Linked DNA regions of Homo sapiens. The protein of the gene in region 2 purifies or fractionates together with the protein of the main gene of each other region. This does not show direct contact. Each region holds a gene or a part of one and is shown on either strand. Other genes may lie near its edges.

Evidence for each region.
Region 1: the proteins of FAM200C (region 2) and BMAL2 purify together in Homo sapiens (affinity purification with mass spectrometry; 2 studies listed by BioGRID and IntAct, with this or other methods). This does not show direct contact.

The regions. Positions count from the first base shown.
Region 1 is NC_000012.12:27,402,336-27,405,835, reverse strand, and holds part of BMAL2 (basic helix-loop-helix ARNT-like protein 2), read right to left. Parts: intron 3,218-3,500; coding exon 3,159-3,217; intron 2,404-3,158; coding exon 2,295-2,403; intron 1-2,294. UniProt on the Homo sapiens protein: Transcriptional activator which forms a core component of the circadian clock.
Region 2 is NC_000005.10:160,393,539-160,398,026, forward strand, and holds part of FAM200C (protein FAM200C), read right to left. Parts: intron 3,978-4,488; exon of another isoform or gene 3,904-3,977; intron 2,002-3,903; 5' UTR 1,953-2,001; coding exon 168-1,952; 3' UTR 1-167.

The DNA.
Region 1 (3,500 bases), on a different chromosome or scaffold from region 2:
TTAACTTCTTTGCCATGGGTTCAAACTTCCTCCTTTAGCTCGGAGTAGTTTGATCATCTGAAGCCTTCTTCTCTCATCAAACTCATTCTCTGTCCAGCTTTGTTCCATTGCTGGTAAGGAGCTGCGTTCCTTTGAAGGAGGAAAGGCGCTCTGATTTTTAGAGTTTCCAGTTTTTCTGCTCTGTTTTTTCCCCATCTTTGTGGTTTTATCTACCTTTGGTCTTTGATGATGGTGACGTACAGATGGAGTTTTGGTGTGGATGTCCTTTCTGTTTGTTAGTTTTCCCTCTAACAGTCAGGACCCTCAGCTGCAGGTGTGTTGGAGTTTGCTGAAGGTCCACTCCAGACCTTGTTTGCCTGGGTATCAGCAGCGGAGGCTGCAGAACAGCGGATATTGGTGAACAGCAATTGTTGCTGCCTGATCGTTCCTCTGGAAGTTTTGTCTCAGAGGAGTACCTGGCCGTGTGAGGTGTCAGTCTTCCCCTACTGGGGGGTGCCTCCCAGTTAGGCTACTCAGGGGTCAGGGACCCACTTGAGGAGGCAGTCTGTCCATTCTCAGATCTCCAGCTGTGTGCTGGGAGAACCACTACTGTCTTCCAAGCTGTCAGACAGGGACATTTAAGTCTGCAGAGTTTTCTGCTGCCTTTTGTTTGGCTATGCCCTGCCCCCAGAGATGGAGTCTACAGAGGCAGGCAGGCTTCCTTGAGCTGCGGTGGGCTCCAACCAGTTCGAGCTTCCCGGCTGCTTTGTTTACCTACTCAAGCCTCGGCAATGGTGGGCACCCCTCCCCCAGCCTCGCTGCCGCCTTGCAGTTTGATCTCAGACTGCTGTGCTAGCAATGAGCGAGGCTCCGTGGGTGTAGGACCCTCCGAGCCAGGCATGGGATATAATCTCCTGGTGTGCTGCTTGCTAAGACCATTGGAAAAGTGCAGTGTTAGGGTGGGAGTGACCCGATTTTCCAGGTGCCCATCTGTCACCCCTTTGACTAGGAAAGGGAATTCCCTGACCCCTTGCGCTTTCCGGGTGAGGCGATGCCTCACCCTGCTTCGGCTCACGCTTGGTGCGCTGCACCCACTGTCCTGCACCCACTGTCCAACAATCCCCAGTGAGATGAACCCAGTACCTCAGCTGGAAATGCAGAAAGCACCCGTCTTCTGTGTCGCTCATGCTGGGAGCTGTAGACTGGAGCTGTTCCTATTCGGCCATCTTGGCTCCACCCGAAAAGCTTTAGTTTTATAGTTCTACTTTGAACTCTGATTTATCTGTAATTTATTTTAGTGTAAAGAATAAAGTTGGAGTCTAGCTTTATTTTTTCCCCAAATGGTTATACAGTTATCATAATGCCCTTTAATGTTTAATTCATTTCTACCTACTGATTTAAGGTGTCATTTTTAATTTTTACCATATAATAAATTTGCATGTGCATTTGATTGTATTTCTGAAATATAATCTTTTACATTGATCTATTTGTGGGTTGCACTAAAATGTTTTAGTGGTTGTAGCTTTATAACGTATTTTAATATCTGACAGCATTAGTCTCACTTTATTACTATTATTTTTCATAAATTTCTAGATATTTTAATGTGATTAGTATAATCTGTTGGATTCCAAAAAAAAAAAATGCATGGTGGTATTTTTTTTTTTTTTTTTTTGAGACAGGGTCTTGCTCTTTTGCCTAGACTGGAGTAAGTGGCAGGATCACAGCTGACTACAGCCTTGACACTGCCCCACCAGCCCCTCTCCCTCCACCCCACTCTAGTGATCCTCCCACCTTAGCCTCCCAAGTAGCTGGGACTATAGGCGTGCACCACCACATCCAGCTAATTTTTTTTTTTTTGTAGAGATGAGGTTTTGCCATGTTGCCCAGGCTTGTCTCAAATTTCTAGACTCAAGCAATCCATCTGCCTCGGCCTCCCCAAGTGCTAGGATTACAGGCATGACCCACCATGCCTGGCCACACGGTGGTATTTTGACTAGATCCACATTAAATTCACAGGCTAGTTTAAGGAACAGGACAATTCTTACAATTCTGCCTTCCTGTTGAAAAACAGCTTATATCTGAAGTTATATGAGTTATCTTTTTATATATCTTTGTGAATTTTAAAGTTTTTTTTCATGTTGGTATGAATATTTCTTATAAAATTTATATCTTTTTGTTGCTACTGTAAAGATAATATTTTCCATTATATTAAACTGGTTATCATTTGTATATAGGAAGGCTACTGATTTTTGTATATTGATTTTATAAATATGATATTTTTACTTTTGAAAATATTTGCAGCAATAAAACATTACCTCTGTAAATCCAGAATTTCATTTGCAATATCTGTTCCAATACTACCAGCACCAAGTACTGTTCCAGTAGACATTCCAGGTACACTCATACAGGACTGTCTAGAGGATTCTAAGTAACAGCAAAAGGAGAAATTCAGTTGAGGACTTTATCTTTCTTTCAATTCAAATAATTTCACAGTTCTCTCCTTAAAAGAAACAGACTAGCTGCATCCAAAAAAGTTGGAAAACACTCATCCTTGCATTACATATGTAATTCATGATGCTCTTTGAATCAAATGTGTAGAGTCACTGAGGGCACAATTGTGACTAGTAACCCTTGACTCCAGTCTCTTGCCACTTTAATCTCCACAGCAATACTACTTCAATGTTTCCTAAGATTTTTATTTTTACAAATAATACATTAATATATTCCTGTGGTGAAAAACTCACACAGATAAGCAAAAACTCCCCCAATACTTTTCGTTAATTTGTCCAAGAGTGTCACAATTGACAAGGAACAATGTTAGCTGCTAGGGCTGAAAAATGGATAAAACATCATTCCTGCCTTAAAGAACTGTCTACTGGAAAGCAAGTTGAATGAACAACTAATTGCAGTATAATGCAAGATTATAACAGAAAAGTGAGCAAAGCACTGTGGGAATTTTGAGGGGGACATGGTGATACCTCTGGGAGTTTAAATGGGATATCTATTTCCCGTTGAATTTAGTCTCTTCTAAACCAAAGTTGGGATTCCTATAACCCAACCTGCAGAACTACTTTTAATTTCACCTTCAAATTTTCCCCTCTCCAGGACAGAAAAAGATAGTAATAGTCTTAATAATATGTCTTAGTAATAAGTCTTCCATCATCTAAAAGTAAGCTTACCTTCTGATGATTGAGAGCTACAAGGTAAAAATGATGCTTCTCCAGGCTCACTATGTCCCCTAGAATTAAAAACACCATAGGTGATTTACTTTCTAAGGTGAAGGAAACTGTTATAGCAACTACACTAAGATCTGTATATTTAATTTGTCAATTTGTGGCCCATTTATGTTTTATATACACATATTGTTAGTATCACCACCAGAAATCAAGGTCTTAATGTGCTAAGTATCATGGTGTTTGCCAAATGCCCCATTCCTCTATAAAGTATGTGTTCTCACAATAACAAACTCTCAGTTCCTGTACTAATAATAAGTAGGCAAAGACTACTGGGATGGGTGACAG
Region 2 (4,488 bases):
GTGTTTTTATTCTCAAAACATATTTTCACATGCCTCATTCAAAATTAAAGTTCTTAAGTTTTTTAGACATAGAATTCAGTATATCATAAATATGAAAGAGACAGAATTACAGCTTAATTTTACAATGATATTAAGATTGAAATTATTCATTAAAAAAGTATATCAGCTTACAGTGACTTCTGCTGTAGCTGTAGCTTTTGTTCAATGATGTCCGAGAAACGAGGAACTTTTTTTGAAATAGCCACACGGATATCATCACTCAGATTAAAGCAGCTTCTGGACTTTGTTTTGAAATGTAAAAGTGATGAAAATCCCAACTCACAAAGGTATGTAGTTGCAAATGGCATAAGGATTTCTAGAGCTGTCTTTGCCAGGTTTGGAAATGCTGTGAATTGGGCACACCAGAAATCCTCAAGCTTCATTGTCTCAAATTCCATTAGGATTTGGCCACTAGCTCGTAATTCAGCAAGATCATTTTTCATTAAATAACTATCATCAACAAAATCGATATTAAAAAGAAATGGATCCAATATCCATTTACTTGCCTCATTAAGATCTCCAATGGAAAAATATCCATGGAAGAAGTTGCTCAATTGTTGCAGATGCAGTGTTATTTCAGCTGCAATGAATATGCCTTCATTATCTGAAACAATTATTTCTTCAAGAAAAGGAAAATTGGTAAAATTTCTTTTCTCAATTCGTTTTTGCCAAAATGGAAACTTCCTAACAAAAGCAGATAACTTCTCTCTAGCTGATACTGTGTTCATCCCAGTCCTCTGCATAGATGCACTGAGTTCATTTAAGTGTTTGAATAAATCTGCAAGGTATGCTAGGTGAATTTTAAACTCTTTATTTTCAAAGCCATCAACTAAATTACTGCTCTTGTGGTGAAGAAACTGATTTATTTCTTCATACATTTCAAAAATGTGAGTAAGTATTTGGCCTCGGGAAAGCCACCTCATTTCAGTATGGAAAAGGAGGACACTATATTCTATGCCAATTTCTTCAAAGAAAGCCTGAAATAGGCGATGATTTGGAGCTCTCCCTTTGATGAAATTTATTACCCTCACCACAGTAAACAGAGCATCCCTCAGTTTTGTAGGCAATGTCTTTATGACAAGTGCATGAGGATTCAATAAACAATGTGTAACTACGATATGAGGTATCTCTTTTTTCACGTAGGCAACAAACTCGGAATTTTCTCCTAGCATAGAGGAGGCACCATCAGTACAAACAGAGCCACATACATCAAGTGCTATCTTATGCTTCAGAAAGAAGTCTCTGAAGAGATTGAACACATCTATTCCTTTCATGGATAGCTGCAATGGTTCACAGAAGAGAAATTCTTCTACGATCTCTCTTTCTTTTATATAGCGCACAAATGCCATTAGCTGACTGCAGTCATCCATGTCAGTTGTCTCAGCAAGCTGAATACCCACTTTAAGAGGACTGGCTTTGATATCTTCTAGAACTTGCTGTAAGATATCCTGGCTCATTTCATCAATTCTAGAATGGATCACATCATCTGATAAGGGTACCTGCTGAAGCTTTTTTTGTGCATCTGGTCCCAAAACTATTTGTGCTATTTCCAGTGCACAAGGTTTCACTAACTTTTCAGCTACTGTATGAGGATTCTTCTCCTTGGCACATAAATACGCAAATTGATACGATGCTTGTAATAAAGTATCCTCATGAGATGCAACTCCAAATGCTTTCAAGGTTTCACTCTGATCAGATGGTGCTGGCATATGCTTCAGGCTATTGAGATCATGCCCAGCTACACCACCATGCTGTCTGTTAAAATGGTCTGACAGTTTTGATGGTCTGAGGTCAGCATTTGAAAATACTGAGTTACACAACACACACTGTGGACGCTGAGTTCCATCTACTTCCGTTGTACAGGTGAACCAGTAGCGAACATAGTCATCATCCCATTTGCGTTTCTTCGACATGGCACACAAAAATTCTCAGGTAGTATTCCAGAGATGCCACAGAATTTTGCTTTGGGAGTAAAATATAACCCACACATTAAAAACCAGTGGCTAACTGAATTAAAACAAAGCCACATCACATGCTATCTTGTATATGTCAAGATACAGCCTGCAGCATGTCAATTCGAAGTAAGCCATGACAGGATATAGTTCAACTTAAAGCTAGCAACTCATAGCTAATGCCCTGGAATAAATGATTTGCCAGCAAGTTATATATGGGAGATTTGAGCTTAGACAAGTTATGAACACCTGTAAGTCCTTTATTGGTGAATTATAGTTATGGCTTAACTTGTTTTCAATAATGTATGTTACAAACAAATCTAGCACATTTTGTATCCCTAGAAAGGGCATCTCACTACCACCACCTTCTTCCACTCAGCCCCAAAGATGTATGCATACCCTCAGTTAAGAATCACTGAATAAAGGAGCAATTCACTAAATAAGGAAGGGTGGATTCTGACATGGAGGTTAAAATAATTGTATACATTTATGGGGTACAAGCACAATTTTGTTATATGCATAGACCACATAGTGGCAAAGTGAGGGTTTTTAGGGTATCCGTCACCCAAATAACATACATTGTACTCATTATTTCTCATCTACTCCCTCCCACCCCACTCTTCCACCCCACCCTTCCAAGTCTCCTTTACCCATCACTCCATTATCCACGTCCATGTGTACACATTATTTAGCTACCATTTATGAGTGAGAACATGGTAGTTCTTTTTAATAGTTAAAGACTAAACAGGTCTGTAATACTATTTGAACCTTGAGCAGTTTTGACTCCAACTTAGGCAGAGAATTTCAAATAGGTCTTTAAGTCTGATTAAGCCACCCCTGATGCAAAGGTAGGCTACAAATTGGCTCAGAGCTTCCTTGCTGCTAAGTGTAACACACTATCAGTCCATGATTCATAGTGTCCATATAAAAAAGCAAAATGGTCGGGCGTGGTAGCTCATGCCTGTAATCCCAGCACTTTAGGAGGCTGAGGTGGGTGGACTGCCTGAGCTCAGGAGTTCGAGACCAGCCTGGGCAATATGGTGAAACCCCATCTCTACTAAAAATACAAAAAATTAGCTGGGCATGGTGGCATACGCCTGTAGTCCCAGCTACTAAGCCAAGATCATGCCACTGCACTCCAGCCTGGGCGACAGAGCAAGTCTCTGTGGAAAAAAAAAAAAAAAAAAAAAAGCAAAACAACTTGCTCAGGGGAAACACAACTATTCTTGTTACCGAGACTTCAGAAAAATCCCTCTCATAGGAGAACACTCTTAAGTAAAATAACGAATTTCATGATGCTTTTCCACCTAAATACCTCTAAGGGAAAGCAGTCAAGAACACACACATGCACATACACAAAATAAGCAGCATTCCTAAGGTTTGGTTTAACCCAAAGACAGGATGTAGAAGGCCCTACCCATAGAGATTCTGATTCTCCAGCTATGGAGTGGGGGCCTAGAATCTGTATTGTAAGTATTTTAGATAATTCTTATAAATAGTAACTAGAACAGTGATCTGTGACAAGAGACACCATATCATCACAATCACTGGGAAACCCTTTCAAAATATACACGTCCCTGCACTACCTTAGAACTAATACATATCTTCTCCAGAAGCAGAACAAAAGAATATGAAATAATGTTGTTCAGGCAGTCCTGAAACACAACCTGGTTAAGTAGTCAGGCTTAGGGGAATAAAAACGTATCCTTCAAACCAATCCTTAGCTAACAAATATTCTAGGTTTCTAAGTGAATGGTCCCAATGCTTTAATAGATATTTAAATTTTCTACATTTTCTGAGTTGATGACAGCCTCCTATGAAAGTTGAAACCTAAAATGAAAGCCATATCTTTTCTCTTTCTCTCCCTTTAGCAACGAGTAAAGGCATAATCCACAGGTAGGCTCAAATATACCTTAGAAAACATTCTATCTCCAAGATAAGTAAGTGATCCCCAAAGTTTCCAAAGTTCTGTGCCAGAGAATGTGGCTGAAATAAAGTAACAGGTACACATTTAAATCTGAATGCCCACTTTGGACATTAAAAGAAAAATCACAAGCCAAGAATATCCACTTAAAGCATTAGCTTTCAAGTGGATCTACCAAGATGAACTAGTTGTAAAGTGTACTCCAATAAAATAAGCTGAGCTGTTACAAGGTTGTTATGAGCCTGTTAAATTGGAGGATGTCTGCCAATCAAAAAAGACAACCTGAAGTTTAAAGAGCTGATCTTAAGACTTCTTTTGTCAAGTAATGAGACTACATGACCACTTTTGCTTAGAACCACTTCTAATTAATGACGATAAAATTATGACATTACCATAAATGCTTATTTTTCTGTATTCTATTAATGTATATTTATCATGTAATATTTGGGGAGGAAGAGGGAATAAAGGAAAATGTTTTTAGTCACATTAGAAATCATTACAAGAGGGGCCCTGCACGGTGGCTCACGCCTGCTACCCCAGCACTTTGGGAAGCCAAGGCGGGCAGATCACTTG